Homo sapiens: one gene and its partners. The protein of the gene in region 2 interacts with the protein of the main gene of each other region in a biochemical or structural test. Each region holds a gene or a part of one and is shown on either strand. Other genes may lie near its edges.

The links.
Region 1: the proteins of HNF1B (region 2) and PAX2 form a complex in vitro, tested with the Homo sapiens proteins (one study listed by BioGRID).
Region 3: the proteins of HNF1B (region 2) and SOX17 form a complex in vitro, tested with the Homo sapiens proteins (one study listed by BioGRID).
Region 4: the proteins of HNF1B (region 2) and PAX7 form a complex in vitro, tested with the Homo sapiens proteins (one study listed by BioGRID).

What each region holds. Positions count from the first base shown.
Region 1 is NC_000010.11:100,741,473-100,748,600, reverse strand, and holds the start of PAX2 (paired box protein Pax-2), read right to left. Parts: upstream 3,020-7,128; 5' UTR 2,409-3,019; coding exon of another isoform or gene 2,341-2,408; coding exon 2,298-2,340; intron 1,587-2,297; coding exon of another isoform or gene 1,414-1,586; exon of another isoform or gene 1,164-1,413; intron 1-1,163. UniProt on the Homo sapiens protein: Transcription factor that may have a role in kidney cell differentiation. Has a critical role in the development of the urogenital tract, the eyes, and the CNS.
Region 2 is NC_000017.11:37,742,058-37,749,300, forward strand, and holds the start of HNF1B (hepatocyte nuclear factor 1-beta), read right to left. Parts: upstream 3,003-7,243; 5' UTR 2,828-3,002; coding exon 2,484-2,827; intron 1-2,483. UniProt on the Homo sapiens protein: Transcription factor that binds to the inverted palindrome 5'-GTTAATNATTAAC-3'. Binds to the FPC element in the cAMP regulatory unit of the PLAU gene. Transcriptional activity is increased by coactivator PCBD1.
Region 3 is NC_000008.11:54,453,661-54,460,938, reverse strand, and holds SOX17 (transcription factor SOX-17), read right to left. Parts: upstream 3,005-7,278; 5' UTR 2,801-3,004; coding exon 2,494-2,800; intron 1,882-2,493; coding exon 944-1,881; 3' UTR 47-943; downstream 1-46. UniProt on the Homo sapiens protein: Acts as a transcription regulator that binds target promoter DNA and bends the DNA. Binds to the sequences 5'-AACAAT-'3 or 5'-AACAAAG-3'. Modulates transcriptional regulation via WNT3A. Inhibits Wnt signaling. Promotes degradation of activated CTNNB1.
Region 4 is NC_000001.11:18,731,829-18,738,849, reverse strand, and holds part of PAX7 (paired box protein Pax-7), read right to left. Parts: intron 3,219-7,021; coding exon 2,972-3,218; coding exon of another isoform or gene 2,811-2,971; exon of another isoform or gene 2,712-2,810; intron 1-2,711. UniProt on the Homo sapiens protein: Transcription factor that is involved in the regulation of muscle stem cells proliferation, playing a role in myogenesis and muscle regeneration.

The DNA of each region.
Region 1 (7,128 bases), on a different chromosome or scaffold from region 2:
GATCAACCCGTAGCCGCAGGTACTGAGCAATCCAAGCGCAGAGACTTCTAGCGGCCGAGTCGGGTCGGCCCGGACTGGCAAGCTGCAGCCCCTGCCCCGCTAGCCTCACGCGAGTTTCGGAGAAAGCGGGGACATCTGTGCCCCCCTCATTTCTCTCCCCTCCCTTTCTCGGGGGGTACCTAGAGCAAGCTCGGTGAAACCCTGGGGAAAGACCTCTGATCGCGTTGCTGGGAGAGACTGAAGCCCCTTCTTTTACCCCCTTGCCCACCCCGTTAATCTCCCTATCTCTAGCCCCACTTCTCACCCTCCCCTCCCTCCAAACCCCGACCATCAATAATTTAGGCCCCGGGAGAACTCGCGTTACCGGTATGAAAAGGCGGCAGCTGCGGGCAGATTAAAGATGAATAATTCAGCCTCCCCGGGCTCAGGGCCCGGCCCCTCAGCCCCAGTCTAAGGGGTGGGGATGGGAAGGGGACACGGCGGGAGTCCAGGGCTGGGGGACTGCAGCGAGTCGGCGCTGAGTCGGGCCTGGAATGCGCCACGGCCGCCAGCACCGACTCGGGCTGCGGTGTCTCACCCACCAGTCCACCGGCCCGCGGGCCCGCGCTGCGGCTCTCTCCCTCCGACCTCTGCTTGGCCGTGCAGAAACCTTTGGGTTTCAAAGTGGCTGCCCGCGGGCAGCCAGGACTCGGCGGACCCCCGGCGGAATCCGCAAAAAAGGAGAACGAGAGCTGTGGCAGCGGGCCGCGAGGCAGGCTGGCTGGGCGAAAACGGCGTGTGGACCCGGTTCCACTCCTCCCGAAAAGGACCGAGGCTTTCCGGCCCGCTCGCCGAGACCCGCGGAGGCCTGATGCCCTCGGCGCGGCTTTCCTGCGCTTGGAAATTACTTAGAAAAATATATTTTATCCCAGAAGTATTTTTAAACGCCCCCCCCAACCCCCGCAACGCTAAATATATGATTAGCGAAAAACACAGCTCTCCCTCCTCGGCTCTCTTGTCCTAAACACAGGTCCAAGCCGGGTCTAAAGTTTCCTTGTGAAAAGTTACAAATTATCCTTAATTATTAATCTGCAGATAGGGAGGAGTTTTCTATTTAGAATTTTAGCTTTTAAAAAAAAAAGCCTGCAAAAAAAATCTCAGAATAGTTTTTCAAGCTAAAGACATGGCATAAATTCAAATTTTATTAAAATAATTCCCTCTTTTCTCTATTTTTTTCTCCCTTCTCCCTTTTCTTCTGTAACATCATGTCAACTTTCTTTCTTTAATTTCCTTTCCCGTGTTTGGATTTCTCTTTTCCTTTCTCCTCAGCTTTGGCATTTGCTTTCCTTTTGTTCTTTCCCCCTCATTTTTTGCTCTTTGCTGACCCCCTGGCCAGGTTGCTGGCTGCGTGATCCTCAATGGGGAGTCGGCAGTCTAGGCAAGGAGCCTCCAGAGCTGAGAGCAGAGCTGCACTCTGCCGGGGGCCCACCTGGAAGGCTGCGCTGCTGGCTCTCTCCCTGACTTCGATTTCTTCTCGGAGCCCCTCTTTGTTTTTAGAGCATCCCCCAGGCAGAGGCAGGGAAAGATGACCATCGTGTCTTGACAACCTGGGATTCCCAATGTGAAGGGAAGGGAAGGCAAGGGAAGGGGGGTGGGAAAGAAAGGAAGAGGAAGAAAATATTTCAAACCAACCCACAAGAAGCCTATGCTGGGCTGGAAGGGCCTGGAGATGCTGAGAGATGAGGGTCAGAAGGGGGCACCCCACCCCCACACTCTTCTGCCCAATTGTCCTGACACTGAGGCTGAATACTCTTGGAGTCTCCTGGACCCCACGACTCTTAAGTTTGAGAAAGATAAAGATGTGGGGAGACAGGAGAGGGAGGCAAACAGAGGAAGAGAGAAAGAGAGAAAAGACAGAGAAAACAACAAAACAACACCCTGAAAACTGCCTGCTAATTTGCCCCCCAGCCCAGGGCAAGAGGCTGACTAGGGAGAGGGTGGCTGGAACCAGGGCTCCGAGGCCGTGGATCCCATGACCTAAGAAGGAGCGGATAGAAAGAGCAAAGGCAGGTGATAGGGATCAGGGAAGGTAGGAAGGCAGGCAGACAGAGAGGTAAGAATGGGTGACAGAAGGCAGGAGAGAAACTGGAGGCATTAGAAACACCGGGCGAGGGAGAGAAAGAACGAAAAGAGGGACCAGAAGCCAGGGAGGCCTCCAAGATGGGACCTGAGCGCGAGGGGCCGGGGCCACGCTGGGACTGGACAGGGTTGGGACGGAGAGCCCCGAGCCGGGACAGGAGCCGGGCGCCGGTACTCACGGTGCATCGCGGAGAAGGGGTCTGCTTTGCAGTGCATATCCATGGGGAGGCAGAGGAGCGGGAGCAGCGCGGCCGCCGCCGCCGTGTCGCCTCTCAAACTCAACTTCAGGACTTGAGGAGAAAAGGGAGGGACGGTGGGGGAGGGAGGATGAGTGAACGCCCGGCTGCTGCGGGGCGCGCGGGGGCGGGGGGCGCAGCACTGCGCTCCCCGCTGGGGCTCCTCCGGGTTGGCCGGAGCTTGCAACTGCAGTAGCCGCAACTTGCCACTGTCGGGGCTCGGGGCTGGGCGGTCAGCAGAATGGCCCCGGGGCGGTGGGCCGGGCCGGGGTGCACTGGGGGCGCATGGCTCGCGCTGCAGCTGCAGCCAGGGCTGAAGCTGGGCGGGGGAGGCGACTCGCTCAGCTCCCCTGGAACCTGGTCATCCGAGAGGCGGTGGTCGGAGAGCGCGCGGGGCGGGGGCGGTCAGAGGGCGCCGGGAGGGGAGCCGGGCCTCTCCAAGTGCTGGCGAGTTGGCGAAGTTGGCAGAGAAGTAGCAATCCCGGGGATGTCCGAGGTGGCGCCTGCGGGAGGGGAGCGCGCGGGCCAGGCCCCCGCCCCCGGAAAAGGCAGGCGCACGCCGCCGCGGCCGAAGGGCCGGGAGGGAGGGAGGGAGCCGAGCGGCGCTGGCAGCTCTGGGCTGGCCCCAGGTGGGTTGCGGCTGCGAGAAGACTCGGCCGGAGACTGGAGCCTCGGCTCCCGGTGTGTGTCTCTCTAAAAGCTGCAAAGCCCCCTCCAGACCTCCTCCCCCTCCCCGCGCCGGGAGATGGATGACTTGTCAGACAAAGGCAATAGATTCCACCACTCTGTGATTCGCCAGCGCTGGAGCCCCGAGCTTCGGCGAGGAGGGCCCCGAGCCTGTCACTCCGGTGCCGGCTAGGGGAGGGCAGGGGAGGGAGAAATGGGAGGGAGGGAGGGAGGGAGCAGCCGGCGAAGGAAGAGGGAGGGAGGGGAGCGGACCGGGGGAGGGGGAATGGGAGCCCGGGATTAAAACTACACTGAGAAACGAAACTCGCCGATAAGATAAACGCTAGATAAGGATAAAGAGCGGTCAGTCTAATGAATATTCAGGTAACGACAGAGGGCCTCGGAGCGCGCTGCGCTGTGAAGCCGGGCTCTCAGTTCTAACTCGCCCAGCCCTGCCATCCACTGGCCAGTGCCCGCCTGGGCCGCGCGGCCCCGGGCCCAGTGCGCATCCCTAGCCCCAACCCCACCACCCTCGGCTCTGAGTTCCCTTCCGTTCCTTCCCGGCTCTTCCTTCCTCTCTTTCTGGTCCTTCCCTTTGGCCTTTCCCTCCGGAGGTACCTTCCCACCCACGCACCCCCCACTTCTCATTCCACGGAAAAGTGTCCAGCAGTTTGTCTTGTCCCCTCCCGTTCCACGCGACTGTGCGCAGGGCCTCCCCAGTCCCCTTGCCCACCGGGTCTGGGCAGTCCAGAACGCTTGGTTCAGAATCGAGCTGAAGACCTCCGGCGAGTACCCACCTGCCTCGGTGGGACCCAGCGGATGGCGGGAGAGCCGGGGGACTTGGTTTCTGAACCCTCGGGTGACTGGGAAGGGGGTACAGGGGAGGGAAACAGTGCGGAGCTGCAGGTCGCTGGCGGCAGAGGATGTGGGAGACGAGGCTGGCTCTCCCCGGCTGGGGAGAAGAGGAGGCTGCGGACGCGGCTGAGCGCCGCCCGCTGCTAGCTCGGTGGATCCGGGGCGAGCGCAGGAGGCGCAACCACGGGGACGTCCCCACTCCTGCCGGAGCCTCCGCAGCTCTCTCTGGCACTAGCTCCCTTGCTCGCTGGGGTCCGCTCGCACGCACCAGGCAGAAGAAGCCCTTTGTCTCCTAACTGGTTAAGTACAGAATATCCGGGAGATCTTCATGAAATATTTTCCCTCGTCTCATAAATCATCTTGGCACTTCAGCTGATGTTTTAACTCTCTCTCCCTCCTTCGCTCCCTCCCCCCGCTTCCCTGGGTCTGCGAAAGGGCGGCTCGGCGAAGCTTGCGCAGCGCTCTTGCAGCCCGAATCCGAGATTCCTCCAGCCCCCGTCTGCAGCTCCGGGCGCCCCGCGGAAGCGCGGCGGACTCGCGCTCCCCTCCCTCTGGCCGGAGCCTGGGCGGCAGATACCATGGGGAGAGATGCACCTGCCTGACTCAGCCTAACTACTACTACTGGGCGTCTTGTACCCGGGTTTTTGGGATGCCCTTATTCCTCAGGAGGAGCTCAGGCCAGGCTCAGCGGGACGAGGTTCTGAGCCTCTCACTCCTGTGGGGCCTGGGTCCGCTGGGATCCTGGCATTTGCCCTCCCTCCTGTATCCTCCAGAGCCCAATAAGCTTAATCCACCTGCGGGGTAAAGTCTGGGAGGAAAACACTCCTCACCGCCTGCCCCTCCCAGCCCCTATCCCACTTCCCTTGGGTGGCTAGGCAGGTTGGTTCCCTTGGGCTAGAGGTTGAAGACGCAGGGCCTAGCCTCTAAGGTCAGTCTCTTCCTCTTGAGGCCTGCAGATGGCGCTCCCGGGTTTGCTTTGGCCTCACAACCCCACGAACACGCACTAACTTCGTGTAGGGACCGAAGAAGGAAAACAGTTCGGGCAGCCGAAAAGTAACAGCTCCCAGGCCAGAGTGCAAGGGATCTCAGGTGGTATTAGCTAGCACAGCCTTGGCTTTCCCCTCTGGGAAGTAATTAACCCAGAACTGGGGTGAAAGGAACGTTGAGAAAGGGTCCTTATTTAGAGGAGCTCAGAACTAAAGTAACCTTTGCCCCAGGTCTCTCCAAGTTGGTCATCCAGGAATTTGTCTCGGGGTGTGTGAACTATTGAAGGAAGAAAGCTGTGAGTAAACCCCCCCCCTTCCACACAGACACAGATTTTTCTAGAACCAGCTAGACATGTCCCTATGTTACAAGTACCATGAAATGTGGGTGCCCACAACAAGCATTTTCACATGTTGGGCGAGAAGGATTTTCCATTTTGTAGAGAAGGGGACTTAATGCGCCAAGTGTGCTGGAAGTTGTCCTCACACACCTGTCCTTCACATGCACCTTCTGAGGAGTAAAGACCCTTCTGATAGTCCCATTCCCAGGTAGCCCCTGAGAGTCCCCCCTGCTCCTGGGATCGTCTCCCCAGCACTGCACTAGCTGGACACTCACTCTTCCGCCAGGCCGGCTCCTGGCCGCTTCCCCATTAGCTCCAGCCCATTCCTGGGTCTAGAGAGTCAAAGAGTAATGCTCCCTGGAGATTAGGAACCCCTTTTCTCCAAAGCTCTGCCTTCTCCTGGGGCTCCAGGATGAAGGGCTGGCCTTCATCCAGTCACTGGCCGCTCCTCTGACTCCCCCTTTTCTGTTCTCTTTCTTCTATACAGTCTAGTAGAGGGGTGGGGGGAAGCAAGAAAGCAAAAAAAAAAAAAAAAAAAAAAAAAAAAAAAAAAAAAAAGGAAGAAAGAAGAGGAAAGGGGAAAAGAAAGAGAAAGAAAGAAAACAACCCAACCCCAAACACTACCCGGGCTCCGACCTGTCAGGGTTGGTTGCTTTTCCCGTCCGCCTCTAAATGAACCTTTTCTCTCTGGTGTTTTCAAAGCGGCCCTTCCACCCCCCAACCTAGGGGCATTTACACTTCAAACAAGGAGCCCGCCTCCCTGCGGAAATTTAAAGGCAAATAAACTTTTGGGGAGTTGCTCTGATACCCATCTCGGGATTTGCTTCATTAGCCGCCTCTGTGCATCTGATCTGCCCAATAAATCTTCCTTGTGGATCTCGGCTCCTTTGCCTTCTCGGCTCCCTTCCCTGCCAGGCTTGCCCAGGCGCCTGGCGGCCCCCAACCTTGCCTCCGCCCTCCAGGCCGAGCTACTGCCGGCCTGGTTTTCTGGCTGGGCCGCGCCTGCTCTGTCTGGGTGTAGGTGTCGGGGTGGCGGATAGGCACCCCGCACCTCGAGTGTACCCACGCACCGGCGCCCCAAGCCAAGCCAAGCGCGACTCCAGGGCTCTCAAATGCGTTTCTGGGCATGTTGTGCAAAAGTGAAGTGCCGGTGTAGACCTAGTCCACTGCCCGCTGCCCCGCTGCCACCCGCTCCCGCTGCCTTCCAGAAACCCTTTCTCCTGTTTTCCGGTTTCCAGTTCCCTGGCCCAGCGTTTTCTGCCCAGGCGAGAAAAGGCAGAAGCGTGGTTGCCTCTCCTCCTCCTGCAGGGCCCTGACCCGGGGCCCAGGCGCCCGGCCTCCAGTAGCTTGGGAAGGCGGCTGAGCCTTGGTGAGACGGAGGGGGCCGCGGGAGCATCCCAGCCGCGCCCCTCCCCCGTGGCCGGGACCTGCCTTCCTCCTTCCACTTCCCGGGGAGCGGCTAGGGGAGCTAGGACCGGGGTCTGAGGGAGGGGATTAGAAATTCCGAAATTAAATGCATCTCCCCAGGAAATGCTCCCCACAGCGCGGACCAAATTAAATGCATTAAAGTTCAGAGGGGAAAAAGCTGTTTAGAACCAAGGGGAGAAAAGTAGTCCGAAGGGAAGAGAAGCAGAAAGGGAGGGGAGAGAGGGAGAACAGAGCTGCAGCTCCGCAGCTGAGCTTCATTTCTGGATTATTCCCACTTTTAGAAGTCACCACCAAAAAGAAAAATAAAAGTTCTTCTGACAACCGAACTCCAGAGCCGACCAACCGAGGCTCACTCGCCCTCTGGGTCCCGGCGCACCCCAGGGCGCATACCCTCGGCTGTCAGATCCCAGGGAGCCGAAACTTACACCCCAGCCCCTTCCGCAGAAAGGCCTGACCGGCTCCTGCCCGGCCTTTCCCCCTCCTCCTCCCCATTCTCTCCCC
Region 2 (7,243 bases):
GTCCCGAAGAGGGCCTGCGGCCATTGTGTCCCAAGCGCAGGTGTCAAACGCCGGCCGCGGCGCCCGCAGGGTCCGTCCCGCACGCTCCTTCTCAAACAATGACTTTGCTGCCCACGAGCAGAGAAGCCTGGACTCCAGCGCAGTCCGCAGCGCGTTCGTTAAGGAGCCCAACTTCGGCTTCTTAGAATGCAGCCCACTTTCTAGACGCCCCCGGCGCACCTGCCTCGAGGCCGCGAGAAAGGCCAGCTCCGGCCGGGAGCCGGGGACCGGGAAGCGCGCAGTCCCGACCTTCCTCCCCTGCCTTTCTCTTCCAGGAGGTTTACTAGAACTCCGGGAACTCCAAAACGCGACTTTTCTTTCTCTTTGCTTTTCGTCTTAAGGGAACACGGTGGGCAAAAGAAGGGAGTGCGTGTGCCCGAGGCTTGGGAGCCCCCTGTGCAGTGACCTAGGAACCGCTAGCGATTTCTTGAAAAATTACTTTAATCAAGTCCGGCGCTCCCGGGAGCGGGGGAGGAAAGGCAGCACCCGCTCGGGACGGGAGAAAAAAGCCTCCAGGTCTGTCCCGCGTCTCCAACTCGGCGAGGGTCTCCGGCTCCCCAGTCCCTCTCCCTGCCCTGCTGGGGCCTGGGGCTTTGGGGAGGGAAGAGCGGGGCTGGGGTCTAAGGACCCTGGGCCGGGCCTGGCTCTCCGCCGGCCGGGCCTGCGGGTGTCGGCGACCCGGGGGCTCCGCGGGCGGCTCGGGCGCTCACAGAGCCCGCGTCCCGCGCCAGAGCGGTGAGGCCGCAGGGCCGCACGGGGCGCCTGGCTGGGTGCGCGCTGGGAGCGGCGAGCAGCCCCGCGCCCGCGTTTTGATCTCCTTCCCCCCTCTAAGCCGCGTTTACAACTTCACCAATGAATAACCCGCCTCTCTTTTCAACCTAATCACGGCTCTTTGTGTATCTTTCTGTTGATGATTTATAGAAATAAATTAATAACACCCCAACTCCACGTGCTGCAGTTTATGTTACGTCTCAGCTGCGGCCAGCCCGGCGCGGGGCTGGGTGCGGAGGGGCGCCCCAGGTCCTTCCAGCGCCGCGCTAGAAAGCGGGCGCCTGCGGCCGAGTGGGAGGGCCTAGGCCCTGTGGCCCCCGGTGGCCGGCGGTGGGAGCCTGGTTCATCCGCCAGGTCCTGAGCGACCTCCCCGGCAGCCCTGGCGCCCCAGCCGCTCCTAGGGGCCACTCTCTCGACCCCTCTTAGCCTCCGCGACTCACACCTTCCGCCTCGCGGAACTCTCTTGCAGGAGTTCTCTCCCGGTAGGGGAGAAATCACCTCCGGGCGGGAGAGCGACGAGGGAAGAACCTCAAACCTATGAATTATACCAAAGTGTGTTTGGGGAAAAAAAATCTACAAGTTCCCCTGATTGTTTTGGCTAGAGGGCAAACCGCCAGGCCCTCGGAGCACAAATTCAAATGCAAGGTCATATCCCACCCCAAACCGCCGCTGCGGACGTGCGGCCAAGGCTCAGCCCCGAAATCGCAGCGCTTCAGTGTCCGAAGCCACGCGATGGGCTCTGTCCTAAAGCGGAGTGGCCCGGGAGCGACGTGCTGTCTCAGGGAACCGCTCGGCTCCTTAGATAATTAGTAACCAGCTGTCAAAGTCTAGGGCGGTCGGGGAGGACCCACAAACGATCCCGGCCCTGGGGATACACTGCCAGCCGGCCTGAACTCCCGGGGAGAGGCCGGGGGTGGGCAGCGAGGTCTGGAAACGCCCTCCTTTCTCAGACTGAGACCAGATCCTCTGCGAACTGAGGTCTGAGACGCGTTCGCCCCCACACCACCGCGCTTGGTTTCTTTGGCCCCGCGCGTGTCCACCCGGACCCTGCATGGAACATGCCCTTTGCAAATCTAAACCCGCGTTGGGGATCCCGGATAATTCCGGGCCTTGCATGGGCGCGGCTAACAAGAGTGCCCACCAGGGAACTCGCCTCCCAGATCCCGGCTCCGGATGCCGCCTGTCCTTCGGCAAAGAACTGCAGGTCATCATGCAGGTCAATGTGTCCGAGGCCGACATGCGGCTTTCCAGACCCGAGGCAGGGCGCAGGAAAAATGCGCGGCCTGGGGCTTGCAGCGGCGCGAGGCTCTGCTCCCGGGAAGTCGCAGCGGTTTCACTGCACCCACTCGCACCTTCAGTCGCGTGGGCAAACCTCCCGGCAAAGGGCTCCACAGCTCCAGTTCTCCCCGGCCCAGCCCCAGCCCCGCGGGGAAAAGCCCTTGGGTCTCGGACGCTGGCCTGGGCCTGGGGAGAAGAAGCCCGGTGGGCCGCAGGGTCGTCCCGCTAAGGGATTGGGAAGGGTCCGGGTGTTGGGAGAGAAGCAGAGCGCCCCCCGGGGGACTTCTCTGGTGGGAAACGGGCTTGGCGAGTGTGGTCGGGCGCAGTGTCACTCAGGCCCGGGGCCGGGGCTCCAGGGGTTCGGGTGGGTCCCCTCCACCTCGCTCTGCGCCTACCTGAGCATCCGGTCCACCTCCGCCCGCTGCTCCGCCGCCTCCTCGGTGTTGAGCGCCTGCAGCTCCTTGAGGATGGGAGGTGTGTCATAGTCGTCGCCGTCCTCGGAGCCCTCGTCGCCGGACAAGCGGCCCTTGGCGTGGCCGTTGGTGAGAGTATGGAAGACCGGCTTGGTGTCGGGCTCGGCCCCGCTGCCAGGGGACAGGGGCAGCGTCTCCAGCTTCACCCCGAAGTTCGGGGATGGCAGCAACTCCTCCAAGGCCTGAACCAGCACCTCCTTGGTGACCCCGGAGCTCAGCAGGGCGCTCAGGAGTTCTTGCTGGAGCGACGTGAGCTTGGACACCATTTTCCAAGGACGGAAAAAGAAGGGGGTGAGGGGGTGGGTGGGTGCGAGAGAGGAGGGTGGAGGGGAGTTTCACAAGCAAACCCCAAATCCAGGAACCCCTCCACCCTTCAGCCTCCAGACACCTGTTACTCCCCGGGGTCCCGGAGGCTCCTCCGAAAGGAGTCAGAAAACTTCTAACTTGCCATGATCGCCACCATTAGGCCATATAAGATATGCAAATTAGTGGGAAGGGCCCAGCTTTCGGCTGGATGCAAATGATGGTGGGGAGGGGGAAACCCGGAGAGAGGGAGAGCCGGAGGGGCAGACCTGGAGAGCAGAAGACCTGGGCCGGGAGCGGGGCTTTGCCAGGGTCCATTGTACTCACGCTGGGGGGCTAGAGACCTTCTTTTACTGGTTCTGCTTATCAGCCAAACTTCACCTAACCTTTGGACTTGTTAAGCCAGTGCCTTGCAGCCTAGGCGCGGGGCTTTTCCACCGGTTCTCAGTTCCGCTTTAGTCCAGAGAGAAGACACTACGCTTCGGGGTTCAGGTGAGAGCCAGAGGAAGCTGGGGTGCTCGTGGAAGAAGGGGACGCAGGAGGAAGCGAAGAGTAGAGACCCTGGATGCGTCCCGGCCGACGCAGGTGGTGGGCCAGGAGAGCCCGCAGGGCGGAAGAGAAACTGACCACTTAGGAAGGGGCGCCGAGGCCACGGGGGAGGTGAGGCAGCGTTAGGTGTGGTGAGCATGCCCTGGAGGGACTCCATTTATTTCTACCTCGGTTACTACCTCCAGGCCCCAGAACCTCCCTGGCCTGGTCTGGCGGTTTGGGTTTGCAGAACTGCCCGCCAGAGAGCGTAGGCGAGGGTGAAGGAGTCCGGGAGAACTCTTGGAAAGAGACTACTTTATGGGTAGAGGGAGTAGCCAAAGTGAAGCTCCCCCAGCAGCTGGGCTGCACCGGCGCCCAGCCTGGCCACGCCACTGGGGAGCTGGACCCCTGGGGCTCCTCACTCTCCTGTTTAAACCCGGATGTCAAGGCGCCTCCGCCTTGGGGGAGGATGGTGAGGCAGAATGGTGAGGCACTAGGATGGTGAGGCACTAGGATGGTGAGGCACTAGGATGGTGAGGCAGTGAAAGCAAAGCTTGACCTGCAGCTGGGTGGACACTTGCAGCCGAGGGTCCCCCCGGCCCACTCATTTCTGGTTTATTCGTAGTTCCAGAACATCTGTGGTTCCCTGGGCCGGGGACGAGCTCTGTAGACGAGGTCACTGCAGCAGTGGCAGAAGTCTTGCACTCCTAGTACAGAAGGTGTCGACAGAGCTACTGAGGGAAAGATGTTTTTTTTCCCACTCTGGCCTGGGCCAGGTAGGAAGCCATAGGCCTTGCAGCACTATTGGAGTTTCACCTGCTTCCCCCCTGGTGACGGGCAGGAGGGGAGGGCGGCGGAAGCGCGCCCAAACCGGCAAGCTAGGACCTGACCTGTAGAAGAACAGGGAAAGGGGCTTCTTTGCTTCCACCACACACAGACCTAAAGCTTCTGGGGAGGAGCATAACGCTTCCCTTCTGGGAGCCTCAGTTTCCTCATCTGCAAAAAGAGGATACCACTGATAACCTTTTTTTGGGGGTTGTGTATATTGACTGAGGCCACTTGTGCAACCGCTTGGTCTAATAATAAAGTTCAACACTTTCTGGTCTGAGAAGACGGGAAGCCAGTTCCCAGTAGTAAAACTGAGTTACTCTGGAAACTTAGGGTATTCAGAATTGGTGATACAGTGCTGGGGTTGGAGGGATTGGGGGACTAGGGTTTCAGAATCAGCAGAAAAATTGCAAAGGAGTTTCTAAGCACATTTTCCTTCCTCTCCCACCCTTGAAAGATATCTAGGAGGAAGTAAGGTTAGGTTAGGGATAGAGAGGAATTTCAGCAGGAGGAGGAAGAGTCTAGCAGCTCTCATCTGCCTAGGGGCAGGATCTAATCTCCTAGGTGTGCAAGGGCTGATGGTGTAATTTATCAAGTCAGGCTGTTAAGGAGCTAGGATGCCTCTTAAATACAGGGTCTGCTACAGGTGCCTGGGCCACTTGTGCTGAGAGCCAGAAGGAAGCGGGATGGTTGTGTGCGTGTAGCCTGAGGAAAGTTTACACTGATCTCAGTCCCTCTTTCCCGGAGACAAGCAAATCCCAAATTCAGGAACCTCTCCATCCTTCAGCCTCCAGACACCCATTACTCCTCAGGGTGCCACAGGGAGTCATAACTTCATGAAAATGTTGGCTTTTCATTTCACCTTCTTTCCCTCTAGTTTGTTGTAATAGGTGCAAATCTTTGCTTCTCATAATTCTGCCCAATGGAAGAACATTCTCTGCCTACCCAGCTTGCCTCAAGAAGGATAATGAAGTGTTCAGAGTAAATGTCCCTGAAGAACAATCTCTTCGTCTGTCTCTCACTCGCTATCAGGATAGAAGCATCAAGTGTAATGAAGATCAGTTTCTGTGTTAAGCTGGGAAAACCCATTTAAAAAACAGCAATCACTTCTGTTGTAACAACAAAACTTTGATTGGCAGTTGCAGCTGCTGTGTGCCCCATCTGATTCCCAAGCCTCATTCTCTCTCAAAATTCAGGTGTCAGCAAACCCATTCTTCCCCACACCCCAGCTAACTATGTGAATGTGCAGGCAATTTCACACAGAGGATAGGACAAACTTCCTATGAGTGTCCAGGTATGTTTTCCAGGTAATCTGGCTATTCATATCTAGCAACTTCCTGTAATGCTCCTTCCTAGTCCTACCTTGTAATATGCCACTTTGTGCAATATAAGCGCTTATCAAGTAATTGTTCTGTACTATAGATCTTCAAACAGATTCACCAGTCCCTTCATATGGAAGTTTAAAAAGAGCTGTGTAAAGTAGACCAGCAGATAGTCTTTCAGAATGCAGTTCATAATGTTAAGTGAGCTATCTTGTAAAACTCTTCAGTTAAACTTCCCCCAAATAGAGGAAGACGGAGTAGGATTGAAATAACATCTGTTTATGCTTCACACAGAATAAAGTCGTGATGGACTGATATAATAACTCCATTTTAAAGATGGAAAAATAAGATATGGGAGAGTCTCAGGTTGCTTGTAGCCACCTCAGCAAATTAATGGAAGGGTTGAGGTTGGGGCTCAGAACTTTTGAGCAGGGTTTTAGGATGAAAGAGGAGGGTCTCTAGCTGTCATTGTTTTGAGGGATGAGAAGTTGAAAGAGGGATTCTGTGGGGGAGAGGTGGAGGATACCCAGCAGAGAATAGAGGGCAGGGTTTGGAGTAGTCAAACAGAACTAAACTTGAACCCAAGATCTGCTTCACCTGCTGTGTGACTTTTGGCATGTTACATAATCTTTCTGATCCTCAGTTTCCTCAGTGCAAAATGATAATGACACTCTACTGTGCCGGTGTGAAGATTAGGTGAGTTAGTAACCACAGGTTCCTAGAATATGGTGGGCTCTCACGTATTTAGAAAGAAGAGGCACATCTTGATAACATGCTGAGAACTGAGGCAACTGATGTCTTTAGGCTCTTATAGTCCCAGCATGTTTTTAAGAGCTACTGAATTTGAAGAGACCATATCAGTTTCATCTGCTCAAATTAGATGAATTTGCAGTTCATATCCCAAGGTTTGTTGTTCTTGTTTTTTATAGGACGTGCAATCCCTGGTATAAAATAAGTTGAAATCCAGTTGACTCATCATTCTATGAAGGTGTTCTGAGCACCATGCTGGTCATTCCACAGATTGGCAAATGTGGCTTCTGTGAACTCATCTCCCCTGGAACTTAGCAGCACAAGCGATATTTCTTTTCTGATTTGTGCATGCAATCTTTCCCCTACTTTTCACGGTTGCACTTCTTTGTTTACAGAAGAGATTCTGGTCATTTCCACCCCTGCCACTCCACTCTCCCAGCCTCTCTCATTGGTTCACAGAGTATCTAGAAGGCCTCAAAATAAAATCATCTCTAGAGTAAAACATAAATACCATCCTAACCTGTTCTGCAGGAGGTCAGGGGCCTTCTTGTTAGAGAGCAGTGTTGCAACCTGGAGAACATTCTAGACATCAGGGTCTGGAAAGAGCCTGAGGTTCTTCTTCTGGCTACAAAACCTCTTTCTGGGTGATTCATCTCCCCAAAAGTTTTGGTGAGCACCTTCTCTGGGTCTCTGATTCTACCTTTGAAAAATGGCTATTGGTCTGGATAACCATTTAGGTCCTCCAACTTTTTTTTATAATTTGAAATTCCTAAAAGGTCTTAAATTATTAGGGTGTCTACTTGCAGGCCTTCGGGCAGATGGGCCAAGAGCTCAGGCCAGACCTCTGTGTAGTAGTGGACATGAAGCCTTGACTAGCCACGAAAAAATATACCACAGAGAGCAAACCCTATGAGGGGCAGGCATCTTCTCATGTCTTACTCCTCAGTGCCT
Region 3 (7,278 bases), on a different chromosome or scaffold from region 2:
AAAAGCAAAAAAAAAAAAAACCAATCAAATAAAATGCTAAAGTGTATTAAAAGTTGTCATAATGCAAATTTTATTTTGATTAGTTTTTGTGACTCCTTTATCTTAAACCCAGCGATGCTTGCCACTTCCCAAGGTGTAAAAATGTGAAGATTAAGGTAAACTGAATGTCGAGGAGTGTAAAGAGATGGCAAAACACAGATAAAAACATCCAAAAAGCCTCTGGGGGCAGGTCAAGCTTATGATTCAACAGTTAGAAAACCAAAATTACTTGGACATCCCCTTCTACTTAAAGTGATATACTGGAATTGAAAATATTAACTGTTAGTTTTAGAAACTAAGATTACTTGAAGTAGGCTCATTCCAGAATGCTTTTCTTTTTTCCTTCCTGAAACAATTACATCAAACTTAGATATCCTAATGTTTATTTTTAGATATACTCCTTAAAGGCATTTATGTTCACCCTTTTCGAGGATGAGAAATTTACATTAACTAATAAACTTAACATTGATCTTAAGAACTGGTTTTTGATAAGACTAGTGTGACAGAGGTACTAGTAGAGCAAAAAAGCAGGATTCCAGATTTTATTTTTTAGAAGATTGAAAAAACACACCCAGGACAACATTTCTTTGATCAATAAACTTTCAGGAAATGGAGGAAGCTGTTTTGGGACACATTCAAAGCTAGTTAACTTGAACTTGGAAATAGGGTTTTGACAATCCAACTATGGGAAACAAATCTCTGAACAAATTTTAAATGAAACCTCACCCCCCCAAACTGTTCAAGTGGCAGACAAAATAAATTACCATAAATTATATGCCAACACACCTTTTAAAAAACAACAACAGCAACAACAAAAACCCAGGAGTCTGAGGATTTCCTTAGCTCCTCCAGGAAGTGTGTAACACTGCTTCTGGCCTGCAGGCTGGGGCGGATCAGGGACCTGTCACACGTCAGGATAGTTGCAGTAATATACCGCGGAGCTGGCGTCGGACACCACCGAGGAAATGGCCCCGTGGCTGTCGGGGAGATTCACACCGGAGTCATGCCCCTGGTAGGGGAGGCCCATCTCAGGCTTGCACACGAAGTGCAGATACTGTTCAAATTCCGTGCGGTCCACCTCCCCGAGGAGCTCGGCGGGCTGACTGGGGTCCGTGCCGTCCCGGCAGGGCAGTGCCTCCGGAGGGGGCGACGGCTGTCCGGGGCCCGGGGGGTGGTGCTGGTGCTGGTGCTGGTGCTGGTGTTGCGGCTGCATCTGGAAGCCGCGCCCGCCGCCCGCCCCGGGCGAGCCCATCGCGCCGTAGTACACGTGAAGGGCGCTGGGTGGCGCCAGGAGGCCCGGAATCGAGGGACCCGCGGGCTCTGGGCCGAGTCGGGGGTGCATGGGACCGGCGGGAGGCTCCGGGGGGCCAGCGTAGTCCGAGACCTGCGCGTAGCTGTAGGTGCCGGCCGCCGGGCAGTCCCCGGGCATCGGGGCGGCGAAGAAAGCCGGGTCGGGGTCCACGCCGTCCAGCGGGGACGTGTCGGGCGTGGGCAACGGGTAGCCGTCGAGCGGAGGCGCGCCCAGACTCTGGCAGTCGCGGTAGTGGCCGCCCATGTGCGGAGGCAGCAGCGGCGGGCCGGCGGGGAAGCCCTGCTCGGGGAACTGGAGGCCCAGGCCGTCCATGGCCACGCGGCCGCCCTCGGGGCCCAGCGCGGCCGCCTGCGGCTCAGCCAGGCCGTGCAGGAAGCCGCCCTCCACCCGCTTCAGCCGCTTCACCTGCTTGCGCCGCCGCGGCCGGTACTTGTAGTTGGGGTGGTCCTGCATGTGCTGCACGCGCAGCCGCTCTGCCTCCTCCACGAAGGGCCGCTTCTCCGCCAGCGTCAGCGCCTTCCACGACTTGCCTGCACAGTGGAAGGAAGGGGGAGAGGGGCGCAGGGCTTATCGGCTGCGCTCCCGCTCCAGGCCCCACCTGGCCCCACCTGGACGCACCTCCCCCCTCAGACTTTGAATTGCGCAACCGGGGTGAAGTTAAAGAGGGAGATCTGGGACTCCTGAGTCCGAGCCCTTGGGGAACACCCGTCCTCTAAAGGCACCCCTTTCTTTTGGTCTCCTGGAAGCGGCTTTCCGCTCACCCATCACCCGGTCGTTCGAAAAACAGAAAAGGACACCTAACTAGGGAAGGGGTCGAGGGATGGACACAACCGGCCCAGTTCAGGGCCAAGGGTGCTCTCGCGCCGCCCGGAGGTGCCGGGAAGTCGCCTTCCCAGAGCCGTTGGACCCGCGCCCCCGGCCACCTGGGGAATCCGGGAGCCGGAGAGCAAGGCGGAAAGCTGCTTTGGAGGGTCGGAGGGCGGGAAGCGGGAAGGGAACCCAGAGCCTTAAGAAAGGACGTGGCCGCTACACACCCCTGGTTTTGGGCGTCAGGCTCGCAAAGAACAGTTTGGGGTTTAAGAAATCGGCCTAGCGATTCGCGCCAGCGCGCCCGGCCGCCTGGGTCTGCGACTCGGACTCACCCAGCATCTTGCTCAACTCGGCGTTGTGCAGGTCTGGATTCTGCTGCGCCAGCCGCTTGCGCTCGTCCTTAGCCCACACCATGAAAGCGTTCATCGGCCGCCGGATACGGGACTCGCCCTTGGCTCGGCCCGCGGCCCCGGCCGGTGCTCCGCTGTTCGCCGGCGCCTCGCCCTTCACCTTCATGTCCCCGATGGGGCTCAGCGACTCGGCCCAGGGGCAGGGGCCCAGCCCGGCCATCACCGCGGGCAGCGCGCTCTGGGTCTGGCTCTGGTCGTCACTGGCGTATCCCGCATCCGGGCTGCTCATGGCGCTCCAGGCCTGCCCCGCTCCCCTCAACCCTCCGCCGGACGCGCCGCCTCCCCCGACCCGGGGGAGGGGGTGGGGAGTGAGGCACTGAGATGCCCCGAGGGCTGCGCGGGTCTCCCGGCCCGAAGCCGCCGCCCGTGTTCTGGCCTGTCGCGGTCTGGTCTACAGCGTACCCAGGGCCCCCAGCCGGCCTAGTGACACTGCGGGCGCCCCTGGGCCGCGGGGCCTTTTCTGCACAGATGTGGCCAATGGAGCGGCGAGGGCGGGCCGGTCCCGCGTCGTTAGGCCCACGCCCAGGCCGTGGTCCGAGTCCCACGTCCCAGTCCAACCCCACGCCCGCCCCTTGCCCCTCCCCCGGCCCCGCGCCCAAGGCTACACCTGCCCCCGGGAAAACTAGCCGGAGCTGGGCTCTGGCGCCGCGTCCTCTCCCACCGGGGTTAGGGAGACTCGAAAAGCCGTCTGGGAGGGCTGATTGTACCTTGGAATCGACGTACTTGCCCAAGGTCGTTTAGATGAACATACCGAGCGTCCATTCTATTCTCTTTAAAGCACATCTTTTTGCAGAAGCCGAGGGTGTTTCAGTGGTGGGTGACCTAGTTTACTTCCAAGGAACTGCATGGGCATCTTCAAATGTGTTTTCTCAAATGCGAAAGACACCGTTGATAATAAATTTAAAAATACAATTTTTCCCCCAGGACTCAACTTGCCTGTGTTATATTCAAAATGCTGTGTCCAAGATAAATCCTAATTTTCTAAAGCAAGATTAAATATGGAACGACGTTCTGTATCCAATATTCCTTCACTCTAAAGAATAAAGCATTTACTCATGACAAGCCAACCAGTTTTTATGTGTATCTTATTATACACATCATGTGAAAGTACGAAAATGTATACATGATGTATATAAGATACGCATAACAAAACTGTTTCTCGTATGTGTTCAGTAACAGGTGAGCCTTAATACTGATTTCTAAAATGTAAAGACAGCAGCAATATTTGTCTAAATGTCCGAGTTTGTTTGGGGGAAGAGAACAATCTGTTTTAGCTGCAAAGTAACTGTGGTTCTTACAGTCAGTTTAAAGCGGTTATTCTGGCAGATAATTAGATTTCTATAAGTTTCTTTAGACTGGAATGAAATCTGAATGACTATTAAACTTGTGTTTCGATCTGGAAAAAAAAAAAGTTTTCAGTGGGACTTTTAAAACAAGCCGTTATACAACACTGAGAAATGACACAGCCTGCCACTGCTATTCCTAGCGCCCTCCAGCATTAGCAAAGAAGCATATCCTCATATTAACCCTGAGGTAGACTCTATCTTACAGGAAAGGAAACGGAGGCAGAGAAGTTAAGGAACTTGCTGGAGACTACAGCGTTGAGAAGGTGGAATTCACACCCAGCAGTCCGCCTTCAGACTTGCAGCTCTTAATAATCACTAAGCCAGGCTGTTGTGTTTGTGTATTTGTGTTGGTTTTTGAGGGCAACTAACAGCCATTCCTGCATAATTAGAGATAACTTTGCAAAGAAATCAATATACGAATCTCCAGAACAGATTTTCTTTATTATGAAGGCGTGATAAAAAAGTAGAGCTTACACCTGGAATCTGAGAAGTAAAATGCTGCTGCTTTGAGTGTGATACTACAACAACAAGACCGTCTGTCCAGTCTTGCTTATTAGTGGCATCCATAAAAATACAAAACTTTTGCAAACTCCTGGCCTTCAGTTTCTCTGGCATTGCTTTTTCTCAAAAGAACTCTTACACAATTGTTTTAAGCCAACTTATCTTTAATTCTGCAAGTATCTGTGAAGCCTTGGCTAGGGGACAAGTTAAGAAAGTGTTTCTAGTTCCTGGGTCTCTAAGATTCAAACAAGAAAAAAAATTAAATCTGCATAAAGAAATCATAGAGAGGTGTTACTTCTAGTTGGTAGTTTTGAAAGCGGTTGATTTTAGACAAATTTAAATGATGATGTACTTTTAAAGCTTTATTTTTTCTGAAAAAAAAATGGGCTTCAGTATAAAGCAAAAGCACATTGCAAATGATTAAATAAGCAACAAAACTATAGGAGGAGAGAGAGCAATCTACAAATTAACCCCGTAGTACCTTGTTTTTTGCTGTTTTTTTTTTTTTTTTTTTTGAGATCTTTTCTAACTTTTCTGGATAATAATAAATATTTTTCAAAGCTCTCAAAGCAGAATTTTCTCTTAACACTAAATCTTTTATGAGCTAAGGAGTTTTCCTAGAATAAACATTGAAAATTAAAAAACAATATCTGGTCCAGAATTCATTTTTATCTGTCTAGTCTGTTTGACTAATTCCTTAAAAAACACTACAGGAAATACAATCCAGGTGTGAGTCCAAAAAATGTACATATACAGATTTAGCCCTGTACACTTTCTTCATCCTCATGCTCTTCCTCACCCAGCTCATTATTGGGAGAGGTGCGCTTGGGAGCCAAGAAGGTGGAGAAAATGATGGGGAAGAAAACGTGGGGTTTCCATATTTTATTGATTTATTTACTTATTCATTTATTGAGACAGAGTTTCCCTCTTGTTGCCCAGGCTGGAGTGCAATGGCGCGATCTCGGCTCGCTGCAACCTCCGCCTCCCCGATTCAAGCGATTCTCCTGTCTCAGCCTCCCGAGTAGCTGGGATTACAGACGCATGCCACCACGCCTAGCTAATTTTTGTATTTTTAGTAGAGACGGGGTTTCATCATATTGGTCAGGCTGGTCTCAAACTCCTGACCTCAGGTGATCCGCCCGCCTTGGTCTCCCAAAGTGCTGGGATTACCGTCGTGAGCCACCGCGCCCGGCCGGGTTTCCCTATTTTTATTTGCCCTTGTTCTTGGGGACTGATCTTGGTCTGGTAAGAGAAATCAGGTGAAAGTACACAATCATAGGTTGGAGTAGGAGCTTCAGATTTTGACGCCCCTCCCCCTACTTCTTATAACACCCTCCCTGAGATCATAAATTCACAGTTTACAAATTTACAGGGGAGGAATTGTGGTGGCTTTCCAAGACTAGTCCCTTTTACATACTGTGACCTAGTTAGATCTCATTTCTTCTGATCATTCGCTTGTCTTATATTTCGGGGGGCAGTGTGGAGGGCGGCGACGTCGCTGACCCGCGCGCGGTGTGTGGAGCCTTCTATTTCAGTCTCTTCACTTTAATACGTGGTGCCCCGGGACGTTATCAGAGCCAGCCACAGATGCCACATGTAAAGCAGCAAACATCCGGAGTGGCTTCCTGCAAGCCTTGCTTTTCTCAACACAAGAGATTTACGCAGGGGGTTGGGGGAAACAACTTTCACAAGTAAGAGCCGAGTACACCGCTCGCATAGCCGTTCGGGTGCGTTAGCACTGCACGGTCCAGGGTCGCAGGGCTCCTGGCTACTAATTGCGCTCACGTCCCCGGGTCCTTGGGCCGGACCCGAGGCTCTAAAGGCTGGGCAAGGAAGCGACTAGCGCACCAAGAAGCTGTGCCCGTTGCCAGTTGGGGCCTTTGGTCAGCGGGCGCAGAAATTAACTCGGGTAGGTGGCGAACCGTGGGGCTGACCTGGAGGAATCAGAGCCACGCTTATCCGTGGGCCCCTGAGTGACCAGGCAAAGGCTGGGTGATTTCCGGCAGGCTTTTGTGTTTTCGATGCTGGGAAAGCAGGGGCTGGAGGAAGGACACTCAAGTCGATCGGGAAGGACCCGTGGGCACCTAGGCAGATCCGGGTTGGCGCTGGAGAGCAAGTCTGTGGGGGCGGGGGAGGGGAGTGCGCGCCGCAAACCCTGGGAAAACTCCAGGCTGCCCGTGGATGACTAGACAATGGTATCCCTGAACAAAGAACAACAATAAGGCCTTTGCATTTATAAATCGTGCGCGGGCGGCTGCCTCCCGGAGGCCAGCACGAGGTGGCGCGCGGCGGTGGAGCGCGGCCGAGGGTCCCGCACCTCCCAGGTAGGGCAGCGCAGCCGGACGCCGCCGATTCGCACCTCGCGTCCCGGCGCCGTCTAGGCGGCGGTGCCGCGCCCCTTGATACCTTTAACGTCTCCTCCTTGTCCCCGGGCCAGTACCCCGTGGGTCCAGGATGGAGGTCGAAGGTCGCGGGCGGGAGGGGAGTGTAAGGGGGGAAGGAGTGGCCCGGAAAATCGCGGCCACCGGCTGTGCCGCCGCGCGCCCCCTGCCTTGGAGGCCCGCACCAGGTCGGAGCCCTGCAGATGCTGCAGTGCGGGTCCGATCCAGCCCCTGCGGTGCTCCACTGCTGCGCCGGCCTCTCCCCGTGAGGACTGAAAAAAAGGGCGACAGCGAGAGGGGATTTGGGGACGCGCGTTACCCCCGATGACCGGAGCATGCATTTTACTTGGACGCCTTCTCCCACTCCCTCCATGCGCATCCCTCCCTGGTTCCGCGGTGTCCCCTCGAGGCTGCCCCCCAACCCCTCCCTGGCAGCGGGCGACTCTTAGACCGTGTCCCCGTTCCCGCTTGGCCCCGCC
Region 4 (7,021 bases), on a different chromosome or scaffold from region 2:
TCCATTTCACAGATGGGAAGACTGAGGCTCAGAGAGGCAAGTGTGTGGCTGCCTGCACTAATTGGGGGCAGAGGAGGGGGCTTTTCCTCCAGCCCTTCCCTCCCAGCTTGGGCCCAGAGTCTCTGTGGGGTGAGTTGGGGTCTGTGCTGGGCTCCCTTTGGGGAGGGCTGGAGAATGTGGCCAAGAGGAGCTCTGAGCTATTCCTGGAGAAGCCAGGGCAGCAGGGGTGGAGCTGGAAGGGGAGTGACAGGAGGAGAAGGGAGTGGAAAGAGAGGATGGAAAAGAGAAGAATGGAGTAGGGGGTGGTGGGGGAGGAGGAAGCTGCTCTGGCTGGCTTTGTCCAAGCAAGAGGAGAACAAACCCTCCTTTCTCGCCTCCTAGGCCCCTTCCCTTTTGATCCCCTCCCCTGCTGCCCCCATGCTGACTTTGGGGTTAATTTTATTTCCGAATTGAGCAGGCGCCCCTGGAGCAGGGCACCGAGCTTGGGTGTGACTAACGCCTGCCCCAGGCCGGGGCTGCCGCTGCCGCTGGGGTCACTCTAAAATATTTATCAAGAGCATGTGTGTCCTGCTGCATGCCCAGGAACACGGGCTGGGTCAGGAGGTCACCCTGGGACCCTCTGGAAATTCTCCCATGCACATGCGTGCACCCTGCTCTCAAATATACATGCAGACCCCCACGTACACATTCACACACACACACACACAGTTATACACACAGACACAGTGTATGTCTACACCCAGATGTACATCCATACACATGTACACACAGCCACACCTATGACATACTCAAACATACACTCATACACTCACCCCTATTTACACACTGCACACAGAATATGTGTCCACACACAGGTACTTCCAAACACACAATCACAGACACACTCAAGCATGTGTGCATGCCTCAATGCATGGCTATACACATGTACATACAGTCACATGTTTGCACACTCATATACATCTATACACACGCATACATATTCATTATACCTATCTACATATTGACATATGCATACCTATGCCAAACATGGAGGCACACATAAAGACACGCTCAACCATATGTACAGACTTGAATGCACATTTAAACATGTTTAAGCAGATACATATACTTACATATATGTGTGCACATGTGTGTTCACACACACAGATGTGCACATCATGTATGCACAATATGCTCATTTATGTGCACGCATGTGAAGTCATATACACATATGCTCACATGTGCCCACTGACACATACATGTATTCGCGCATATGCAAAGATGCATGCAATAACACATGGGTGCTGAAATAGAAGCATCACATGCACACACACACAAGAATTGTAACATGTCCCAACATACGTACTCACAAACACCCATACACACATGTGTACATACACATATGCAAACATGTACATGCACAGGAAGGGTTGTGAACACAGCTGGGAGGTGGAGGCCGACATAGCTGGCCCTCATTTGGCAGTGGCCCTCATTTGGCAGTGGAGGCCAACGACACGTGAAGAGGAGTGGGTTTGGGGGGGTGGGCAGGAAGCAGAGGTCAGAAAGGCTGGCCCAGGGCTGGGCTGGGGGAGAGGACACCCTCAGGGATGGGGGCCTCACCCTCTTGCCACACGCCCTTCTGATTAGTTTGACACCAGCAGGTGAGGCCTTTGCAGGGCGGTGGGGCAGGAAAGTGACCCATGACCTCTGGCTCCCTGTCCCATCTGGACCTGCCCTGCTGCTGGCCTTGCCAGGCGGTGGAGGCTGTGTCCAGGCCTGCGTTTTCCAGCCTTTGGTGTGAGGATCCACGGTCCCTGCCTCAAGGCAAGGCACAAAGGGGATAGCAGCTGGGATGGGTGCATGAGACCATTGCAGAGTTTGGAGTGGAGGAGAGAGTTGGAAACACAGCTTTCCCATGCCCTGCGGCAGAAGGGGCAGGGTCTCCCACTGAGCTGTCCAGCACAGTGGCCACCAGCAGCACATGGCTGCTGAGCACTTGAAATGTGGCTAGTGCGACTGGGAAACAGAATTTCAAATGCCGATTTCACTTGAACTAATTTAAAGTCAAAAACCAATCTTCAATTGGGTTATTTAGTAGTTGGAAAACTTACAATTTGGAACACTTTGGGTTTGTAAGTATATTTTCTCAGTTGCAAACTATATGAAATTTAAATACAGATCAAGTATTTCTGTTGAAAACTCAGTGTCCGAATTAAAATGGGCTGTAAGTGTAAAACACACACATGATGTCAAAGACATAGCATAAAGAAGAGAATGTAAAATATCTCAATAATTATATATGAATTGCATTTTGAAATGATAATCTTTTGGATGTACTGGGTTAAATAAAATGTTAGTAAAAATAATTCCATTGTTTCTTCTCCTTGATTTTTTTTTTTTTTTTTTGAGACAGAGTCTTGCTCTGTCACACAGGCTGGAGTACAGTGGCGTGATCTCGGCTCACTGCAACCTCCGCTTCCCGGGTTCAAGTGATTCTTGTGCCTCACCTACTTGAGTAGCTGGGATTACAGGTGTGCGCCACCATGCCTGGCTAATTTTTGTATTTTTAGTAGAGACAGAGTTTCACCATGTTGACCAGGCTGGTCTTGAACTCCTGGGCTCAAGTGATTCGTTTGCCTCAGCCTTCCAAAGTGCTGGGATTACAGGCATGAGCCACCACGCCTGGCCTGTTTCTTCTTATGTTTTAAAATGTGGCCACTAGAAATGTTAAGTGATATTTGTGTTGTGTATTTTATTTCTGTTGGAGCCATAGTACGGAAGCAGAGGCTTAGCCAGGAGATGTCCTGGGTTTTGCCCAACTCAGTGTCATTTTAGGTGAACTGTTCCATCTGGCTGGACTTCAATTTTTCCATCTGTGAAATGGACATTCCCCACCCTGACACCACCTTGTAGCTCTCCATAAACAAGCAGGAGGCCCTGGGGGTGGGAGAAGGAATGGGGACGGGGGACGCCCAGGGCACCAGGCACTCACTCTGGCCGTACTGGCCGTACTGATAGCCGGCCACGGGGTCCACGCTGTAGCCGGTGGTGCTGTAGGTGGGTGGGCAGTAGGCCTGGGAGGTGGGCAGGCTGTCTCCTGGCTTGATGGAGTCGGCCCGCTGGCTGCAGCTGGCTGAGATGGAGGTGGCCGAGTCCAGGCCGCCATGCAGCGGGGAGATGGAGAAGTCAGCCTGTGGCTGCGGGGGCACCGCACTGGGGTTGCCCAAGATGCTCATCACCTGTGGGGAAAAGGCCATTAGTGCCAGGCTCACCGGACAGACCCCAGAGACACGAGCACACTGGGCACAATGCCAGGCTGGCCCTGGAACACTCTTTGCCAGAGTTGTTCCCTTGAAGTCTCTGTAGCTTCGAGGTCCTCAGTTTACCTGATTTGCGTGCCCTCATGCATGGGATGGCTGCTGGTCTTCGGTGTTTCTCTTGAAGGAGGGTCCTGACCCAGGGATCCTCCTTCCACTGAGAACTCAGCAGGGCCTTACTCGCCTCTCTAGCTCCAGGGTCTGGCCCTAAGGGTCACTCTGGGCCTGTCTATTGAATGAATAAATGCATGAATGAATGCATGAATGAACGAACTGGCTAATGAGGCCTCTCCCATCAGTCAGGGAGTTCTCCAAGCTCAGAGAACTGTGCCTCCCCCATCAGACTGGGATGGCCCCATCTTCTAACACAAACATTACAGCAGGACTCTTGATCTGTCTGCTGTCACTGTGTGTGGCTTGCTCTGCCTGCCACTCCTCCGGACTCTGAGGTTCCTGCCCCTTCGACACTGAAGCCCACAGCCAATGCTTTCAAAGAGCCTCTCAGGCCCCTTCCTTTGATTCTACCAGCTCCTGAGGTCTGTGAGCATCCCCTCCTTCCCTGCCTGGCCAGGTTCCGCAAATAGGAACTCACTGTCAGTGCTGGCAACACAGACTACCAGGGGAGGCTTGTCTCTAGAAGCTCAGCTTAGGGGACCTGGATGGAGGTCCAGGTGTTCACTTACTGGGATGTTCACTTGTTTACTCCACAAACAGGCATGGATGGTGACTCTGGCCCCAGGCTGAGAGCTGAAGGCTCTGAGACTTCAGAGGAGAAAGAGCCATGGTCCCTGCCCTCGGTCGGGGGAGAGGAGGAGGAAGGGTCTGGGTCGGGTGAGGGAAGCTACTAGCAAAGATCATAGAGACATGGAGTAGTGATACAGGCATCTTATCTATCAAAGGACACAGAGGAGGGCACCCAGTCATCCTTGGCAGTCTGGGAAATCTAGGGGAGGTGGAACCTGCTGTCTAGCTCTCCAGGAAAGAGGACGGGGAGAAGCAGTGCTTTCCTGGGGTGGGACTGGGAGTGGTGCAGCAGGAGCTCCTGGAGAGTGGGAGGGCACAGTGTCCCAGTCAGTTCAGAGCAGAGCAGGGGAGAGGGCAGGAGAGAGAGGGCACAGTGTCCCAGTGAGTTCAGAGGAGGGCAGGGGAGAGGGTAGGAGGGAGAGGCAGGCCCTCGTGAACCTAACCTGCAGGGCCCAGGCCCCTGATGACCTCCTGGTGATGCCGCCCTTTATGGGAGGAAGACCCTGAGTATGAGGTGGGGACGGCTTTGCTGATAATCTGCCCAGCACCGAGACGGAGAACCACGTGGCAATCCCTGCTGGGCACACAGTTGAGTTCCCTGACTCCCCTTACAGGGTAAGAAAGCAGGCTGCGGGCATTCGAGCAGTGATCGTTTTGCCGACTAGACACCTTCTGAAGATTTTTACCTTTGCCTTTATTATTGGCTTGTGCCACAGGCATTGAGGCCTGGCCACAGTCGAGGGCACTGATGGATTCCTCGGGCTAGGGACAGACAGCGAGCTCCTCCGTTTACCAGCTGTGTAACCTCGGGAGTATCCCTGAGCAGTTAACTCATTTGACTCTCCCAACCCAAAAGCCCACAGAGATTTGTGGGGCAAAGCTAGGATGCCCATTTCCCAGATGAAAAACTGAGGCCCGCAAAGGGGCCGTGGCTTCCCTAGATCTCACAGCAGGCCCAGGGCTCAGTTCGCCTGACCCTGGCTCACCTGCAAAATGTCAAGTTCAACTCTCAAGAATGAATGAGGTTGAGGCATCTGATCACTTTAGAGGGTCTCACTCCAAGGACCAGCAGTAGTTTGTTTCCTGGGCAGCTAATGTGGGGTGAGTGGGGTGGGGTCCCTTGCTCTGGGGGAAGCTTAGGTCCTCTGGAATGTCTTGAGCAGAGCCTCTGCCTGGTTCTTTCCCCCATGCCCTCAGCCCTGGGGGTCTCCCCTCCTCCACCTTTTCCCTCTGTCACTCTCACCCCAGAACCAGAGCTCAGAGCTCAGACCAGCTGAGACCGTCAACTGGCTAGTCTTCATCTCCACACAGCTGGGGAGATTTGGGTGGGACATAGGGGTGTGTCAACCTCATCAAGATGGCAAAGACACACTGGAATGGGTTTGCAAGAAGGAGAGAGAAAGTCTGCCTGGGAGGCAGGAGGCTGGGCTGGGGAGGGTCTAGAGTCCTTTGGACACTAGCACTACTTTAGGGAGCTGAGGTCTCCCTAACTCGCTCTGTGTTGAATGTGCTTCTGAGATCTTTGTTGTGGTCGGGTCAACAGTAGGGTGCTGGGGTAGTGGTATGTGAGGGTGTCTGACACTGTGGGACTGTGTTTGTTGCTTTCTGTCTGTCAAGATGGGATCTCCTTAGCTTGAAGAATGTGCTAAGGGGCTTGGGGAGGAGAGCAAGGTCCCAGGGCAGACTCAGGAATCTGAGTCTACCCTGGGGTTCTCAGTCTAGACCTTTTCCCACCCATCTCCTTTCTCACCCAACACAAACACGGACCCTGCTCCCTGCTCAAAGGAGGCCTGGACTCCAAGAATAGACTTAGAGGCTCAGAAAAAACACTCAGGCTCCAGATCACTTCTTTCAGAAGGACAGTTGACGGGGGCTGGGAGACTACTGGGAGGGTTTGTCAGCTCCCGTGAGACTCCAGTTTGATCCTTCCCTCCTGCCCATCCCCAGGATGCCAAGCCCGGATGGGATGATGGGAGGGGAGGAGTCGGGGGATGGTTAGGAAGAGGACGAGGATGTTTTGAGACAGGCTGAGAGCTATGTGTAGTCCCACTACTCATCCTCTAAGACAGAGACCTGCACAGAACTGCTGCCCAATCTGACAGTATCACTCAAGAATTATGAATGGCTCCCCATTATCTCTCAGCAAAAGCTCCTAGTGACCAGACCTCTAGCTGCCTGTCCCAACTCCTTTCACCCCTTTCTACCCTGCACTTTACCTTCCAGCTATCCCAAACAATGTGGTATTTCTTGAAGATATCCTTCATTCATTCACGTATTCGTCCAACAAGCATTTCATAGGGTGCTACTATGTGCCAGTCTGGAGCTAGGGCTGGACTATGAGCTCTTTGAGAGCAGGATGGAACTGCATTTTGTCCGTCTCTGTAGTCCCAGTGCCTACGTGGTACTTGCTACATATTCTGAGCTCAGAAAACCTCTGCTGAATTCATGTGTATTCCTTTAACAAACATTTACTGAGCACCTATTATATGCCAGACACTAAGCCAGGCACTGGGGACACAGCCATGAAAAATGCCAATCCCATGTCCTCCTGGAGCTGTCGGCCTAAGGAACGAAGCTGACAATAAACAAGTGAACAAATAATATAATTTCTGATACTGATAAATGCTACGGAGGAAAAATAAGGGGCTATGTGGGGCAGTCAGGCAAGACCTCCCCAAAGATGTGATATCCAGCAAGACCAGAAAGAACAGCCCTGAGAAGACGAGGCAGGGGAGCTTTCCAGGCAGAGAAGTCAGCAAGTGCAAAGGCCCTGAGGTCCCTGGGGCTGAGGGGGCTGAATCACGAGATACACCCAGCAGGTTTAGGAAATAGCAAGAAGGTGAAGGCGGAGAGTAAAAATTCCAGGAGCTGCGAGGGCTTGTGCAGTCCTTTCTCAGAAGGGGCTTGGGTGGTGCCCGGTGGCTCAAGAGGCCTTGGACCCTGGGCTGTGAACTGACAGCTCAGAAACAGCTTGGGTCCAG